2 separate regions of the Homo sapiens genome follow, and region 1 is linked to region 2. Evidence: fine-mapped expression QTL. Tissue or cell type: minor salivary gland. Region 2 holds a variant in brackets; the other region holds the start of a gene. All regions are shown on one strand. Distances are from middle to middle.

Evidence for each region. PIP is the estimated chance that this variant, and not a neighbour inherited with it, causes the effect.
Region 1: it holds the start of DENND3, and the variant in region 2 is fine-mapped to the expression of DENND3 in minor salivary gland (GTEx, PIP above 0.99).

Annotation. Positions count from the first base shown.
Region 1 is chr8:141,123,794-141,131,971 of GRCh38, forward strand. DENND3 (DENN domain containing 3) reads left to right here and starts at 4,796. Exons shown (of 23, transcript NM_001352890.3): 1 at 4,796-5,016. The coding sequence starts at 4,915. DENND3-AS1 (DENND3 antisense RNA 1) reads right to left here and starts at 6,348. Exons shown (of 2, transcript NR_183310.1): 1 at 6,231-6,348; 2 at 885-2,678. RefSeq lists enhancers at 3,392-4,223, 5,057-5,887 and a silencer at 4,342-5,201.
Region 2 is chr8:141,083,963-141,092,140 of GRCh38, forward strand. No RefSeq gene overlaps it. Among named protein-coding and RNA genes, the nearest start is that of DENND3, 41 kb to the right of the region's middle. RefSeq lists silencers at 2,398-2,467, 2,498-2,547 and enhancers at 2,678-2,827, 3,195-3,695, 5,310-5,679, 5,840-5,969. The variant A/G (reference allele first, on the strand shown) is at 4,916.

The DNA of each region.
Region 1 (8,178 bases), 40 kb after region 2:
CTTATTTGAGGCCAGACTGTGGTGGGTCTCGTAGATGTCCCAGAGTTTGACCTTTAATGCAGGTAGGAGAGCTCCCTAGTCTGTCCAAACAGCTCTAATATAATAGGCAGGCAGCTTTCCATTCTCTACACGGGGCTTGTTCACATCTATTGGCATATTTGATTTTCCCAGCAGCCTTGCAAGGTAGGCATTGCTTTTTTAAATCTAAAAAAAAATTTTTTTTTTTTTGAGATGGAGTTTCACTGTGTCACCCAGGCTGGAGTGCAGTGGTGCGATCTTGGCTCACTGCAACTTCCGCCCCCTGGGTTCAAGCAATTCTCCTGCCTCAGCCTCCTGAGTAGCTGGGATTACAGGCATGTGCCACCATGCCCGGCTAAATTTTGTACTTTTGTAGAGACGGGGTTTCACCATGTTGGCCAGGCTGGTCTCGAACTCTTGACCTCAGGTGATCCACCTGTCTCGGCCTCTCAAAGTGCTGGGATTACAGGCATGAGCCACTGAGCCAGCCCCCGCATTGCTCTTTTTACAGATAAGAAAACTGAGGTCAGTGAGGTTTGGTGTTACTTGGTGTGGGACAGAGTCACTCCTTTTTGTTTCAAACCCAGCACCTTGGATCCTGCCCAGGCGGCCCCATAAAAGGAACTGCTCCCGGCTGGGATATGCTTTGGGCTACTGTGTGCCCATGTGCGGTCACACCTCGAGGACATATGAACATGTCCCGCTCCTACCATTCGTCTAGGGACAGAGTGACATTGCTCTAGAGAACACTAAAAGTCTTGCACTTCTGTCCCGTTTTGTTGTTGTTATTTTTAAATTGGAAATACAAGACCATTCTCCCCCGCAACTCCCATATCCCCCATCAAGCCCTCAATAAACTGGTTGCATTTGCATGTAAAACATGTATATTCGATATGTACATATCACATCATATCATATCATAGCTAGCTCTGAAGATGCAGCATAGGAAAGAGACGAGAAGGCTGTGCCCTCACCCGTGTGGAGAGCTGTGTGAAACGGAGTGGCCTCCAGACACAGCTTTTATTGCCAGTATTCATCCACTGATGGACATTTGGGTTACTCCCACCTTTTGGCTCAGCTGTGAACATGGGTTACAAGTGTCTGTTCCAGCGCCTTATTTCAGTTCTTTCCAGTATATGTCAGAGGCAGGATCGCTGGGTCGTTTGGCAATTCTGTTTAGTTTTGTGAGGAACTCCCATACTGTTTTCCCCAGCAGCTGCGCCATTTTACATCCCCAACAACAGTCCACAAGGGTTTCAATTTCTTCACATCCTCGCCCACATTTCTTATTTTTTGTTGTTGTGTTATTTTTAAAAAATAACACCTAATGAGTGTGACGTGGTATCTCATTTTAGCTTTGATTTGCATTTCCCTAATGATTAGTGATGTTAAACATGTTTTCATGAGCTTATTGGCCATTTGTGTGTCTTCTAAGAAATGTCTATTTGGGTCTGTTGCCCATTTTTTAATTGGGTTGGATTTTTTTTTGTTGTTGAGTTGTAGGAATTCTTAATATATTCTGAATAGTAACTCTTTGTTTTGTTTTGTTTTGTTTTGTTTTTTTGAGATGGAGTCTCACTTTGTCGCCCAGGCTGGAGTGCAGTGGTGTGATCTTGGCTCACTGCAACCTCTGCCTTCTGAGTTCAAGCGATTCTCCTGCCTCAGCCTCCCGAATAGCTGGGATTCCAGGTGCACGCCACCACGCCTGGCTAATTTTTGTATTTTTAGTAGAGCTGGGGTTTCACCATTTTAGCCAGGCTTGTCTCGAACTCCTGATCTCAAGTGATCTGCCTGCCTTGGCCTCCCAAAGTGCTGGGATTACAGGCATGAGCCACTGCATCTGGCTCTGAATATTAATTCTTTATCAGGTATATGATTTTCTCTTATTCTGTGACTTTTTCACTCTTTTGAAAGAGTTCTTTGATGTACAAAAGTTTTAATTTTGATGAAGACAATTTAACTATTTTTTCTTTCGTTATCTGTGCTTTTGGGGTCATATCCAAGGAATCACTGCCAAATCCAATGTCATGAAGCTTTTCCCTTCATCCTGTATTTTTTAAAAAATAATTTTAACACCTAAAGCGCTGCTAAAATGTCCAAAGTTAATTGACATCCTGCAGCGTCCCCATGAACTCCATTAAAAAAATTTATTCAAGTGAAATTCACACACCATAAAATCATCTTAAAACAAACCATTTAGTACCAGCACATTCACAATGCTGTGCTCGCCCCTCTTTTGGTGTCAGTACTTTATGGTTTATAAATTATGTTTGTTTCTATTTTCTCGTTTGGTCTTCACAGTGTCCCTGAGAGTTAGAGCAGTAAACCCGTTTCACAGGAACATGCAGGGAAGGAGGGTAACGTGCTCTGAGCCCACATGCAGTAAGCACTGACCGTGTTTGCAAGTTTCTTTTATCCAATCCGAGCTTTGCTTTCCTCGACTCTGATGTGGGGCAGTGCTGCCTACTGGGGCAGATGTTCCTGCTGGCTGGGCTCTCCTTGCACCTCTCTTCTTCTCTAGGTCCCCTCATCTGCTCATCTGCCTCGATGTGACTTCCACCTTTGAGTTTGATTGCTAGTCATCTCCACCTCGTATCTCCAAACCCATTAGCAATTTTTCAAGGATGGGACAAAGCTTTCCGTAGGCACTTTGGAAGGACCTGTGGCATGAGAGACGGGAGCGTATTAAAAAGTGCAGAACTGGGAGCCCCTCAGAGGTCATCTGGCCCAATTATCTGGTTTTAAGGAGGAGGAAAAGGGGGCATAAAGGAGTGGATTGCAAGCTCTGTGCACTGCTGGAGCTCTCTTCCTTAAAGCATTTGGCCTCTTGGTGATAAAGGGACAGCAGAGACCTGCTCTCGCGTGAGCCTTACTGGGTCCTGGTGGCAAGAGCTGCCATGTGTTTACCTCCCTTGGATCTTGACCACTGCCCCTCAGGAAGTCACGGCTTAGGGCTGTTGAGCTCACCTGTCACACAGCAACACACAGGAGCCAGACTCAGGCCCTGTGTGCCCTCAGGGAGTGGCTCATGGCTCCAGCCCGGGTTGAGAGCGCCTCTCCTGCATGCTGGGGACTCTAGGTGACGGATTCAGGCTGTGTGCTTTGCAGAGGCTGCTAAAAATGAGGCCACCAAGGCTGGGTGTGGTGGCTCATGCCTGTAATCCCAGCACTTTGGGAGGCCAAGGCGGGTGGATCACCTAAGGTCAGGAGTTTGAGACCAGCTTGGCCAACATGGTGAAACCCCATCTCTACTAAAAATACAAAAAGTAGCCAGGTGTGGTGGTGGGCGCCTGTAATCCCAGCTACTCTGGAGGCTGAGGCAGGAGAATCGCTTGAACCTGGGAGGCAGAGGTTGCAGTGAGCTGAGATCATGCCACTGCACTCCAGCCTGGGCTACAAGAGCAAAACTCTGTCTCAAAAACAAACAGAAAAACAACAACAAAAAACCGAGGCCACCGTCGAGAGAGACAGGCAATTGTTCATGAAATCGGTCTTTCTTTTGAAGTCAGAGACTATAACAACTGTGGCCTCAGCTCACCGATGAGAGCCACCGATGGTAGGCAGCCTCCAGGCCTGGGGGAGAACCAGCAGATCCTCACCATCTTTAGGTTAATAAGTGAAATAAAACCTGTGAGTCAGGCTGCAGTCACGGCCTCACCCGGCTCAGGGAAGGAGGGAGAAATTCCTCAGGGCTCCCTTTTCTGATGTTGCCTTGCTTTGTACTTACTGTTCCTTTTCCTGTTCAGCTGATGACAGATGTTTGACATTAAGCATTTTAGAGTTTTGTTTTTTAGAAAATAGAATCATAGATTATCAGAAGTGGAAGTCCCTTTGGAATAATTTCCCCTGGGTTACACAGATGGCTATGGCAGGGTCAAGGGAGGGGACGGTCAGCGGGGACTGAGCGCAGGCCCCCTCCAGGCTCTGCAGCAATGACCAGGCAGCAAGCCGGCCTCCCGGGCTTGTGGGCTGTCCTCTTTCTCTGGGGTCAGCCTGAGGCTGGAAGAGGCCCGTGGCCCACCGGGCATCAGGCCAAGCCTGGAGCTGACCAGGGAAGGGCCCTGCCAGGCCTTGGGCCTCTGACCCTCAGTCCTGAAGCCTCCCTCTAGCGGCGCCCACCCTGCTCCTTTTCCTGCTGAATTTTACTCAAGTCCGTACTTGAGTATGGCCGGCCCTAGGTTAACCCCGCAGAGTTATTAACCAGGAGTGGCTCTTTCCACCCCCCCTTCCCGCCGGCCCTTCCTGCTGTCCACACCCGGCCAACTCCACTGTCCTGGCAAGGGAGGGCTTCCTGGAGGCGGCAGCGGGCGGCGCGTCCGGCCTTTGTCCCCCCACGCTCTCCAGGGTAGGTCCAGGGACTGCCAGATCAGGGGACCCTTTGCGTCCTGGAGCCTTGGGGGCTGGATGACGTCGCCGGGCACCTGAGGACCCCGCCCATTCCTCCCTCGGTTCCCCAGGGAGCGGGCGGCCGGCGGGGCTGGGCGGGGCCGAAGGAAGGGGCCGCTTGCTCCGACGCCGCGCACGCGCCAGGGCCCGCAGGCGGGTTAGGAAATGACGACCGCGCGCGGGTCTCCAGCAGCACCCGCCCTAGGACCGGCCCCGCCCCCAAGTCCCGGTCCCTAGGGCCGGGCACGCCACTCCAGGCCCCGCCCAGAACCTCCCCGCCCAGTCAAGCCCCGCCCCCAAACTCTGTCTCCCCGCGGTATCCTCTGGGGCTCTCCAGGCCCCGCCTCGGCTCGGGCCCCGCCCCTCCAGGCCCCGCCTCCAGCCCCGCCCCGCAGACGGCGCTCGCAGCGCCCCCGGCCCCCAGGCGGCGCGGCTGGTCCCCAGGGGTCTGCGGGCGACTGCGCGGCTGAGGCGCCCGAGTGCGGTACTGGCGGCGGGCGGCGGGCAGCCATGGCGGAGGCCGCGTCGCCGCACTTGTCGCTGCCCTCGGGGCTGCTGGAGCTCTGCGCGCTGCTGGGCGCCCCCCGGGACAGTCTCCGAAGTCTCGAGCAGGTGAGGGGCGGGGAAACTGAGGCGGACGTGGGCCACGAGTCGGCAGCCGGGACAGCAGTCGGAGAGCGGGCGCCCGGGTGCCCTGTGGGTTGGCGCGGACTTTCCGAGGGCTGAGTCCCGGTCCCCCGGCGGTGACCCCGCGCGCCTGTGGCCGGGGATCGCGCCCGAGCTCAGGCAGGTGCCCTGGAGCAGCGCCCTGCTCCCCTCCCCTCTTCTCTCCTCTCCCCGCCCGGGGCCCTTGGTGTGAGACATGTCTTTTGAGAGCTGCGAACTTGGTCCGCCGGCCGGGAATCTGGGGGTGCCGCCCCTCGGAGAGTCTCTGGGGCCTCTCTCTTCAGTCGCTCCCATCTTGGGCAGGTGCTTCTGAAGGTGGGGTGCACCAGACAACGGGCGGAAGCCGCCGGAGCCTCACGGTCTAGCGGGCCCAGCCCTCGCTGCTGAAATGATTTCATTCTTTATGCTGGGATGTGTTGTCCCCTGAGTAGTGGGTTTTGCACCAGGCACAGAATAACGAGAGAGCAATCTTAGAGTTAGCCGCCGGCCTCGCGTATTCTGCATGAACCCCTTTGCGATGAAGCCTATAGCTATTTTTCTCCCTTGCGGTACCACCCCCACCCCCAACCCTTCCTCCATCTCTGCACCCTCGCAGCCAAAGTGACAACTTCATCTCCCTTCTGCTGGGAAAGCGGCAGTTTTGGAAATTCTCGTTTTCCTTTTTCTTCCCCAGCTTTTCTTAATTCTGTAACGCTGGCTTTCCCTGGAATCCATCTGTGTCTCTGGTTTCCTCCTGGTCCGCCTGTCTGTGACACCGTGACTGGGTCATGTTACCTAGAGATCCCGGCGTCACTGGCCAGCCGTCTGCACAGGTCCGTTCATCTCTTTGCAGACAACAGCATAGAAAGGCAGAGAGGCTTCTGAGTATTTAAATGACGCTGGGCTATCCAGGGAAAATGAAGACTGCAGGGCAGAGGGTGTCACCAGGAAAGGCAGATGTTCCTGCAAGTAACCAGATGAATGTCTGTGAGTGTCCGGGGAGTTTCCCCTGCTGGGCGTCAGTACCAAGCCAGTTTCGACTTCAGTGAAAAAGCATTCTCCTATGGAAATAGTTTCCTCGTTTCCCTCAACTTTTCCTTCCCTTCAACGCCCTGTCATGTCAGTAGATCCCGTTTGACCTCTGTCTCCTCGCAACGTCATCGATTGATTTGTCTCCCTACCTCGAATTTGCCAGATGGCATCTCCTCCTTTTTCTTCGAATAGGAAGTGACCTAGTTGCCGCTGTGGTCTCCTCAGCCGTTGAACGTCTTTCCTCTGGGGCAGTTACAACATGGGTGTTAGTTGCTTGGTGTGACACATGTCTTTTGAGGGCAGGGCGAATCAACTGGAATATTTGCAGTGGTGCTTTCTTTTTTTCAATTTCTTTATTATTATTATTATGTTAATAATAGAGAGGAGGTCTCACTGTGTTGCCCAGACTCATCTCCAATTCCTGAGCTCAAGTGATCCTCCCGCCTCAGCCTTTCAAAGTGCTGGGATTACAGGCGTGAGCCACTGCGCCTGGCCAGTGGTGCATTCCTGAACTAAACACGCTGCAACATTTTCATGTTCCCAGGTCAAGTGAGAGTATGGACAGTCTGCTACTGTGCATGCTTAACTTTGTCCTCTTTACTCTGTCTTTTGATTCTGTTAGGGGTTTGGCAAAGGGTGGAGAGAAAAGTAGTGAAGGACTAAGAAAATAAGGAGCGTTAGGGGATGGATTCCATTTCTTGGAGCCATCCTACTTTTAAGGTCAATATTAATGTTATAGTTAACCAAACATATGATTTTATTTATTTAGATGTTTTTTCGGCGGTTCTATTTTGAATGTCCAAGGCTTTTAAATATATTTTTTTTTTTTTGAGACAGAGTTTTGCTCTGTTGCCCAGGATGGAGTGCCATGGTGCAATCTCGGCTCACTGCAATCTCCGCCTCCTGAGTTCAAGCAATTCTCCTGCCTCAGCCTCCTAAGTAGCTGGGATTACAGGCGTGTGCCACCATGCCCAGCTAATTTTTGTATTTTTAGTAGAGACAGGGTTTCACCACGTTGGTCAGGCTGGTCTCAAACTCCTGACCTCACGATCTGCCCGCCTCGGCCTCCCAAAGTGTTGGGATTATAGGTGTGAGCCACCGCACCTGGCCGCTTTTAAATAATTTTTACCTTGACTTTTACAAATCCCCATTTCTCTGTGGCCCAGGCATTCCTTCTTGATGACACAGGAAAACAGAGGTCCGGAGGTATGAGGAATATCCAGCTTCATGTTGGATAGTGGAGGGCCCTTTTGTTTCATTTCCTAGAAGGGGGAGTAGTGTTTGTTTTTTTAGGAATGGTGACCGAGACTTTGAGAATGCAGGCTAATGTTAGTTACTGTGGTTAGTTACATTCCCCTCCACCCCTTTACTATAGAGCCCTCCCCAACCCCATTATTGGTTGCTATGGAGACTAGACATAGGTGTGACAGGATCCATTATAAATCCATCACACAGGAGTAGAAAGTGTTCTGAGTACCTTGCGTAGTACAGGTCACCCGCATAATTCTTGCGTGTGAAGCTCCATTTTTATGGCTTTTGGTGGACATCGTCCTGACTTTCAGTTTCAGAACAGCACTGGCCAGCTGGCCTTCCTGGGTGATGGCAGTTCGTGTCCTCTCTTTGCACCGTGCAGTACAATAGCCACTGGCCACATGTGGTCACTGAGCTTGTAGTGTGGCCAGTGAGCTAAGAAACTGGGTTTAAAATTTCATTTAATTCTAACTAAACAGTTGGAGAGCAATAAAAAAATTGATTAATTTCTGTTTTATTCCCTTAATAATGGCCAATCCTATAGTGAAGATGAATTCCACTGTGTACTCTAACTTAGAAATTAACCTGTGACTCAAGTAAATTAGAGTGTTCTGGTTTTTACTTTTGAATTAGCAGTTTTAAAAACCAAAATGATGGTTATTGGGTAGGGGTTTAATAAGTCAGCACCTGGGACAGAAGAATGGGAAATGACCTCACCTCCTGCAGCAGACTGGCAGAGGTGACTAGCGTCTCGGTGGTGGCGGGGTCTGGTTGTTCAGGGCAGCCACAACCTGTATCACCAAGTAACCTTGGAACACTCTTGTGCCAAGACTTCCATTTTTAGGA
Region 2 (8,178 bases):
GAGTGACTTGCCCAGCTTCCTGGGGCCTCCCCAGAGGCAGCCACTGATGTCAGACTCCCAGTGTGTCCAGCGACAGTTTGTACACAGGCAAGCAAGTCCCGTGTGCATTCTCCGTACTGAGCCCCAGTTGTGCACCTGTGCACAGAGACCGTGCGGGTGGGTGTGCATCCTTCCCCTGACCTGGGTGTGCTTCCTCTAGAGGGCTGGAGCCTGAAGCTTTTATCTGAAGGACTGATCTTGGACTACCAGATTCTGCTTTGTCTGTACATGCAGAGTCAGAAGTAGCTGGGAATTCAGATCTCCCAGGGCAGCCCTCAGCCAACCACTAGCAGTGGGGGTAAGGAAAGCCCTGCTGCCACAAGCTCACCCTGCAGAGTCCCCTACAGGGTCAGGCTTAGCTCCCTCCTGAAGCTTCAGCTGAGACCACGACCTGCTAGGCATCCTCCCCTCCCCAGAGAGGCTGGCGGAGAGGCGTATGCAAGGGAGCGGAGGCTGGGACCGGCCCGGCTTCTTCCCCGGGCCCGCTAGGGGGCGCGCGCCCTCTCCGCGGAGTTCTCTGCTGCTGGGAAGGCGAGCCGGCCCCCGGGACTTCAGAGCCGGAGCCAGGCACTTAGCTTCCTTCTGGGGACCCTGAGGCACGGGAAGAGAAGGGACCTCCTGCTCGCAGTGTCCCCCTTGCGCTGTCCCTGCTAGTGACAGGAAGCTCTTCTCACCCTGTTCGTGGGCCCGGCTGTGTCTCCTCCTCGCCTTCACCTGCCGTTGTGACCTGCAGTGCCCTCCCCAGCTTGATCCCTACCTGGAACCCCTCGGTGTCCTGTCCCAGGCCACGCTGAAGGTGGGCGGTGCGTGCTGCGGGTGACTGGCTGAATGAATGAATGAGCCAACACAGGAATGCCCGTGGACACCACCAGGGGTCTTTCTGCGAAAGTGCGGTGACACCAGGGGTCCTCCTGCGGCCCCGGGAGGGCCCAGACTCGGCCTGAGGGGCTCAGCACCGGCTCCTCCCATTCCCTTCCTTCCTCCTGACTTGCTGTGGTTCTTTAAGTTTGGTAATTAATGTCATTCTAAGTAAAGGAAAAACAAGCAGTCGAGTCATTCGCATGAATTGTTGGGCTCATCATTTTACGGTGCGATGCCGTCTTAGGCGCAGAGCGTCTCACTTGTGCACTAACGCGCCACAATGGCACATGGGTAGTGCACAGTTCGTACAGGCACGTGTATTTCGATCTTACAGGACAATGGAAAGGCTGCACAAATCTAAACCCACTGTCACCTCTGGGGCTCGTGCATTCTGCCAACACCCCATAGGAACCCGGATCTCAGACGTCCCAGGTACGTCAGCCCCACCAGAATTCTGTGCTCATAGGACACGGTGAACGCTGAATGTGGACAGGGCGGCAAGGACCCGGACACTTGGATTACACAGGTCTCCTCTGCTCACACACCCTGACGCTGTCCCATTGAACTTCACTTACAAAACACGAGTTTAAAGATAAAATCATCTGTTTCACGATATGGCTATGTTAAAAAAGATAAATTATTGATAATTCCATGGTGGTGACAGCAGAACATTAAACCAACGTGGGGCCCTTTGAGTGAAGCTCTGTGTGATGCCATGTGCTCCAGGTCCGTGACGCTGACCTTGCCAATGTCTGGAGGGAGAAATTAAACATGTGCCTAGGTCGGAGGTGCTGGAACCTCCTGGGGTGGATCCCAAGGGAGGAATCCGGAGAGTGGTGCGATTGTGGGGGTCCCTGACGTGTGCGATTGTGGGGGTCCCTGACGTGCAGATCCAGTGAACGCAGATGTGTTGTTGGGTGTGAGTGAAAGGCAGCACAGACCTCTTTCAGAGAAGCGGTTGAGTGTCTGGACTTGAAGTGGGACCCTTGCCAGTTCTGCCATTAGCAAGCTGTAAGGAGGTGACTGAAACTCACACCAGCCACTCACCTATCCTTCATTCTCCGGTTCACCCACCTGCATCTACCTGTCTACCTTTTGATGCATCCATCCAACAGTTATTTTTTGAAGTCTACTAGAGTCAGACACTGTGGGGACCATGTTGTAAACTAGATCTCTGCCCTAAGTCCCTTCAGTAAGATGAAGATGAGTTATTTATCAAGATCATATTTGTGGCCAGGCGCAGTAGAGGAATCTGCCAGAGAAAGTGCAGGTCCCCACGAGGGAGGGTGGGGCTGGGGCCAGAGGGCCCTCTGAGCATAGCCACTCATCTCAAGGGGCTCAAGGGATGGGCATTACTGATCCCATGTTACAGAGGGGCGAGGTGCCCGCAGCAGGGCCGTGGCGCTCAGTGATGAGTGGGGTGGGAACCAGCCTTGCCATGTGCAGCCACTGTGGGTTCTGAGATTGGGGGCAGCAAACCAGCATAAGCAGTCTTGCTCAACCCTGTGAGCAGCAGGGCAGGGAAAGGGAAGGAAAGAGGCCTCCCAGGCACACAGTAGTGTCGAGCCGGCAGCAGCCACTTCTCATAACCACCAGGGGTCTGCGTCAGCACCCCATTTTACAGGTGGGAAAATGGGGGCTCCAAGAAGTGAAGTGAGCAGCCCGGGCTCTGGAGCCCTCACAGCCTCACGGCCCCGACCCCCACCTCCGTGGCTGACTCCCCCTGCACAGGGGGCACCCCCACCCCGCCTTCCTTCCTGAATATGATTGATCACCCAGGAACATGACAGCCATGGAGGAACTGAGAAAAGGAAAGAAAGTCCCAGCCCAGCCCTCGGCGCCAGTGGTTCCTGGGCCACGTCCACGTCGCAGCCGTGTGTGGATGCCACATTGGTCACTGTGACTGTGAGGGAGTCACAGGGCTGCTTCTGGCCAAAAGCCCCTTCATGTCCCTGTGGCTACCCTCGCTGTGTGGTTATTTCAAAACATTGAAATAACTTTTTTCTCATATTAGAAGTTATATATACTGTAGTTATTACAAAGCCATTTAAAAATCAGAAAAAAGAAAAAGTCACCCAGAACCTCCCTGCCACCTGGCAGCATGAGTCCTTCCCATCACACCTTCTCATTTGCCCATTTCCTTATTCGTTTGGCATGTATGTATCGGGCACCTGCTGTGTGCCAGGCACTGGGGGGCCCTGGGGAACGGCAGTAGCAAAACAAATCCATACAGAGACGGAGGGACCTGGGACCTGAGGTTTCATCTATTCACCCCATTCAACAACGCGTCACAGTGTGGCTGTCTACACTGGTAGTGTCTGCGCTCAACGCAGTGTGCCTCCGGGCACTTCTTCCATGTGTCTTATTTGTCCATGTGTCTCATCAACTCTGTCCAGGCGCAACCCCATATCCTGTCAGGAGCAGACACCCAGCTGCTAGGGCAAGTCTCAGGCATGGCCACCTGTGAGGTCACAGTCCCTCTGTGGGCCCCAGTGCCCTATCCTGGGGCCTTCCCATCTTTGCCTGTGCGAGGAGCACCGTTTCTCAAGCCCACTCCTGCCTCTGTGGCCCAGTGCCTCTATAGAACACAGGGCCTGCCTTTTCTGGCAGACAGCCCCAGTTGTCTGTCCAGCCCCAGCAGGGGTGAATGTGGGGAGAGCAGTCGGCCCTATGGACAAAGCTCCCCTGGACTTTGGAGGGCAGGAGTGACAGGACTGAGCCTGTCAGGCCCAGACGGGGTGAAAAGAAGTCAGGAAAGGGGGCGTGAGGTTGTGTGGCAGCAGGAGGTGGGTGGGTGTGTGCTTCACAGCCCGACGGCTCCCCATCCCCAGGGCAACTTTCCAAGGGAGGCCTGCAGTCCTTCAGTTCTCAGCTGCAGTGGCAGAGCTGGGATTTGAACGTGTCCCCAGCAATACGGTTCCTTCCCCCGGTCCTTCCTCAGAACTCAGTGCATTGCCTGCCACGTTGTCTAGGAGAATGAATGAATGAGCCATCTCTGCATCCATCTGCTTGGTAAGGCTTCTAGCCGTGTGCACCCTTGTGCGTGCCACCTCCCTTCTCCAGGTCTGGAGTGGGTGGGCGTGGGCACAGGGAGCCTGGTTTCTGTGGCCCTGGTCACATCACATAATGGAGACACAGAGCCCACCTCAAGTGCCCGGGAGAGCCCCCTCCAGAGAGCAGTATACCCACAAGACTGAAGAAATGGTGACCAACCTCCCGCAAGGCCCACACAGACACACACACAGATATACACACATAGCCACACATGCACCCTCTCATAGACGCACATATGCATACATGCAGACAGACACACATGCACACAACCTACGCATACACACATACAGTACACACATGCTTGCACACAGGTACATGCAGATATACACATGTACACCCATACACATGCACACACACACACACCTGTACACACAGATACATGCACGTACACACACACGTGCGCACAGAGACACATGCGCTTCTCTCCTGCTACTGCTTTCCTTGTCTGCTCTGCACTCCCACATCTGATACCCTCTCCATTTCACGTATTTAACATGGACTCTGGCCGCAGACTCCTCAGGTTCACTCTTCTGTGTCTCGGCCTCCCCATCTGCAAGTGGAGACAGCAATATATCTATGTCATGGGTGCTGTGACAATTAAGTGACATGAACAAAACACTTAGAACAATACCTGGCACTGTGTCAATTTAGCTGTGTTCTCAATGTCACCTCTCACTTGGTGTCTGACTCCCTCACTAGAATGCCAGCTCCATGAGGCCAGCTTGCCAGCGCGCTCTCTGCCGCCCTCTTCACCCGGAACAGTGCCTGACATATAACAGGGGCACAACTGGAATCGGTGAATGGATGAGTGGCTTCTGGCAGCCACTGCACTTGCATTCAGAGTGGCAGGGGCCTAGGTGCCTCGGGACCCCTCCCCTCCAAAGTAGCAGGAAATCAAACCTGGCTCAGGCCAGAGGGGTGGACAGCTAGGGCCCCGGGCCAGGCCAGGCCCTGGGGAACC[A/G]GTTTGAGAAGCTCCTCCTCTTCTGGGTACATGTGGGGTGGATGGGCTGGGAGGGTCTGCTCTGCGGCAGGGGGTGCATCCTTCTCTCTTGAAGACACTCCAAAGCTGAGCCGCATAGCCTTTGCTCAGGCCTCAATTCTACCCCCTGGCTCCGTGAGTTGCCCAGGCCTCCCTCCCAGATGAGTGCCCTCCCTGGGGATTAGCCCGACACCTTCTTGCAGCCCCAGGGCCGTGGTGGCCTGCCCAGACCAGCCAGGAGCCAGGCTGGGGCCAACTTAGCACTCAGCATGGCTTGTGATGGGTGGGTGGTGGGCTGGGCTCAGGCCTCAGAGAATACCCGGCTCAGACCCCAGCGTCCCCATGTTCTTGCTGGGTGACTGGGCAAGTTCCTTGGCTTCCTGACTAGTCAAACAGAGTGCACCTATTCTTCTGTTCACATGACTTGGGATTTCCAGTTCTGAAAGCATTGATCAGCTCCCGCTCCGTACCCGATGCTGCACGTGGCTCTAGGGCTGAATGTGATGTGGGTCGTGGCCAGCTTGTTCCTAACTATCCAGCTTATTCTCAGTTCCTCTGGGGCCTCCTCTTGTCCTGGGAGTCTGTCCTAGTCCAGGCTGTGGGGTTGGCATGGAGCTGGGGCCTCTGACCCTGAGTGTTGACACCTGGTCGGGTGGCCCCAGTTCCGTCTGTCTCTGGGCGTCACGCCATGCAGGAAATGGCTGTGGGCCCTGTGTCTAACAGACAGGCCCCTGTGGGTCCGCCCAAAGCTGCACACCCTCGGGCCCCTGGGGACATGCGCTCTGCCACTCTAGATGTGTGTGCCTGGGAGGCTGCCTCGGGCTGGAGTGAAGGTGAAGGAAAGGGCTTTCCAGTCCCCTCTCTCTCAGTTCCCCCAAACTTTTCTGAGCTTCTGTCATTCCCACCCCACCCTGGAAAGGGACTTGGCCTAAAGTGAGGTGGGGCCGGCTCTCTGTCTGTCCTCGTATCACCCTCCCTGTGGGCTTGGGTGGCAGGCAGGGCATGGCCAGAGCCTGGGTTTCTGCTGCTGCCGCCTCGATTTCAGCCCCTCTGTTCTTCGTGAATCGCTCTGCCACCCCTTTCCCGGGCCACTCACCCCAGATGGGGGAAGGGTTGTGGGTAGCAGGAAGTCCGGGGGAAACCCACAGTGGTTCACATCTCAAGAGCCTCAACCCGCTCACAGCAACAGCACTGACCTGACCAGAAGACAAGAGGAAGACGGAGACGAGAGGAAGATGGAGACAAGAAGATAGAGACAAGGGTGTGCCCCCAGGGAGCCTTGCCTGCCCCTCTAGGGCTGGGTGTGTTCTTACCATGGTGGGAGACCTGGGGGCTCTGGCTGCCCTGTGGATGTTGGATGGGGGTGAGGTAGACCCACAGACGCAGGCAGTGGTTGGACAATGAGGTGTCTGGCTGCAGGAGCAGCTGGCTGGGGGGCTGGCCTGGGTGTTGGGGGCTGTGGCCTGCTCTGCCGAGAGACTAAGCTGCCTTCCCTGAGCCAGGAGCAGCAGGAGGTGACATCTAGGAACAGTGAGGTCCCAAGTTAGGCAGTGACAAAACATTTGACAAGACTAACATCTCTTCCCATGAGATGACCCTAGGGAAAGAACAGAATAAATACAAACATCTGTACCTTCAGAAAACTTCCCTAAAACAAAAAGATTTGGAACTACATATTGAAAGAGTACACCATGTATTTGAGAAGACAGACCCAGGGTAACCAACATCAAAACATGTTCTAGTAAAATTACCAATCTAAAAAAAAAAAAAAAATCCTTGAGTCCAGGTTAAAAGAGTGAGGGACTTATACTAAAATAAAAATTAGATTGTCGTGCGACTTTTCAACCACAACACGTTCTGCCAGAAGAAAAAGGAGAAACATACTGTACTTAAAATACTCGAGAGAAAATGTGAGCCAAGTACTATGCACCCAGCAAAACAGACTTTGGAGTATAAAAGGCACAAACAAAAAGCAGCCCCAAAGGACTCAGGAAATAATGTTCTCAGGGTCTGAGGGGCCCAAGGAGCCTATCAGAGAATGACCTTCAGGCAACCAATAGAGTCCTCAATGGAAGCACTAGATAAGGAACCAAGGCTAAACCAAGGCTGAAAAGGAGAGTATAGTGTCTTGGATAGCGACTACTTGGGGCCAGTGTCACTGGAAGTAAAGGAATTTACCAAGACAGTTGTAGGTAAAGAAAGGCAGATTTATTGAAGTATGAAAGGTAGGTGGCTCACGCCTGTAATCCCAGCACTTTGGGAGGCCGAGGCGGGCGGATCACGAGGTCAGGAGATCGAGACCATCCCGGCTAAAACGGTGAAACCCCGTCTCTACTAAAAATACAAAAAATTAGCCGGGCGTAGTGGCGGGCGCCTGTAGTCCCAGCTACTTGGCAGGCTGAGGCAGGAGAATGACGTGAACCCGGGAGGCGGAGCTTGCAGTGAGCCGAGATCCCGCCACTGCACTCCAGCCTGGGCGACAGAGCGAGACTCCGTCTCAAAAAAAAAAAAAAAAAAAAAAAGGTAGGATGCAGTGGCTCACGCCTGTAATCCTAGCACTTTAGGAGGCCAAGGTGGGCAGATTACCTGAGGTCAGGAGTTTGAGACCAGCTTGGGCAACATGGTGAAACCCCGTCTCTACTAAAAATACAAAAAAATTAGCCAGGTATGGTGGTGCATGGCTGTAGTCTCATCTACTCAGGAGGCTGAGGCAGAAGAATCACTTGAACCTGGGAGGTGGATGTTGCAGTGATCCGAGATCGCACTGTTGCACTCCAGCCTGGGTGACAGTGAGACTCTGTCGAAAGAAAGAAGGAAAGAAGGAGAGAAGGAGAGAAACAGAGAAAGAGAGAAAGAGAGACAGAGAGAAAGAAAGAAAGAAAAGAAAGACGTTGCAAGGGTGCAATGGGCAGATCAGCAAGAGAGGAGCTGACTGCCAGGAGACAGAGGCTTGCTGGGGATTTCGCAGGACGGTGCTCGTGCTGTGTGCTGGAGTGGGCCATGTGAAGTATCGCTAACACCAAGGTTGCAGCGAGCTAACTTGCATTTTTCTATCAGCCAAGGGTCTGGTGATGAGTCAGGTGTGGGAAGGTTGTGAGTTATTTGTGCAGGAGGGCTATGTGTTCTGGATCAAGAAGAAAGGCAGACTTATAGCTTATCTGAGTTTTTTTTTTTTTTGCCAGCCTCACTCCTTTTCCCTTATTAGGACCTATGTTTTGCGTGTGATGGCTACATTTTCTGACCGT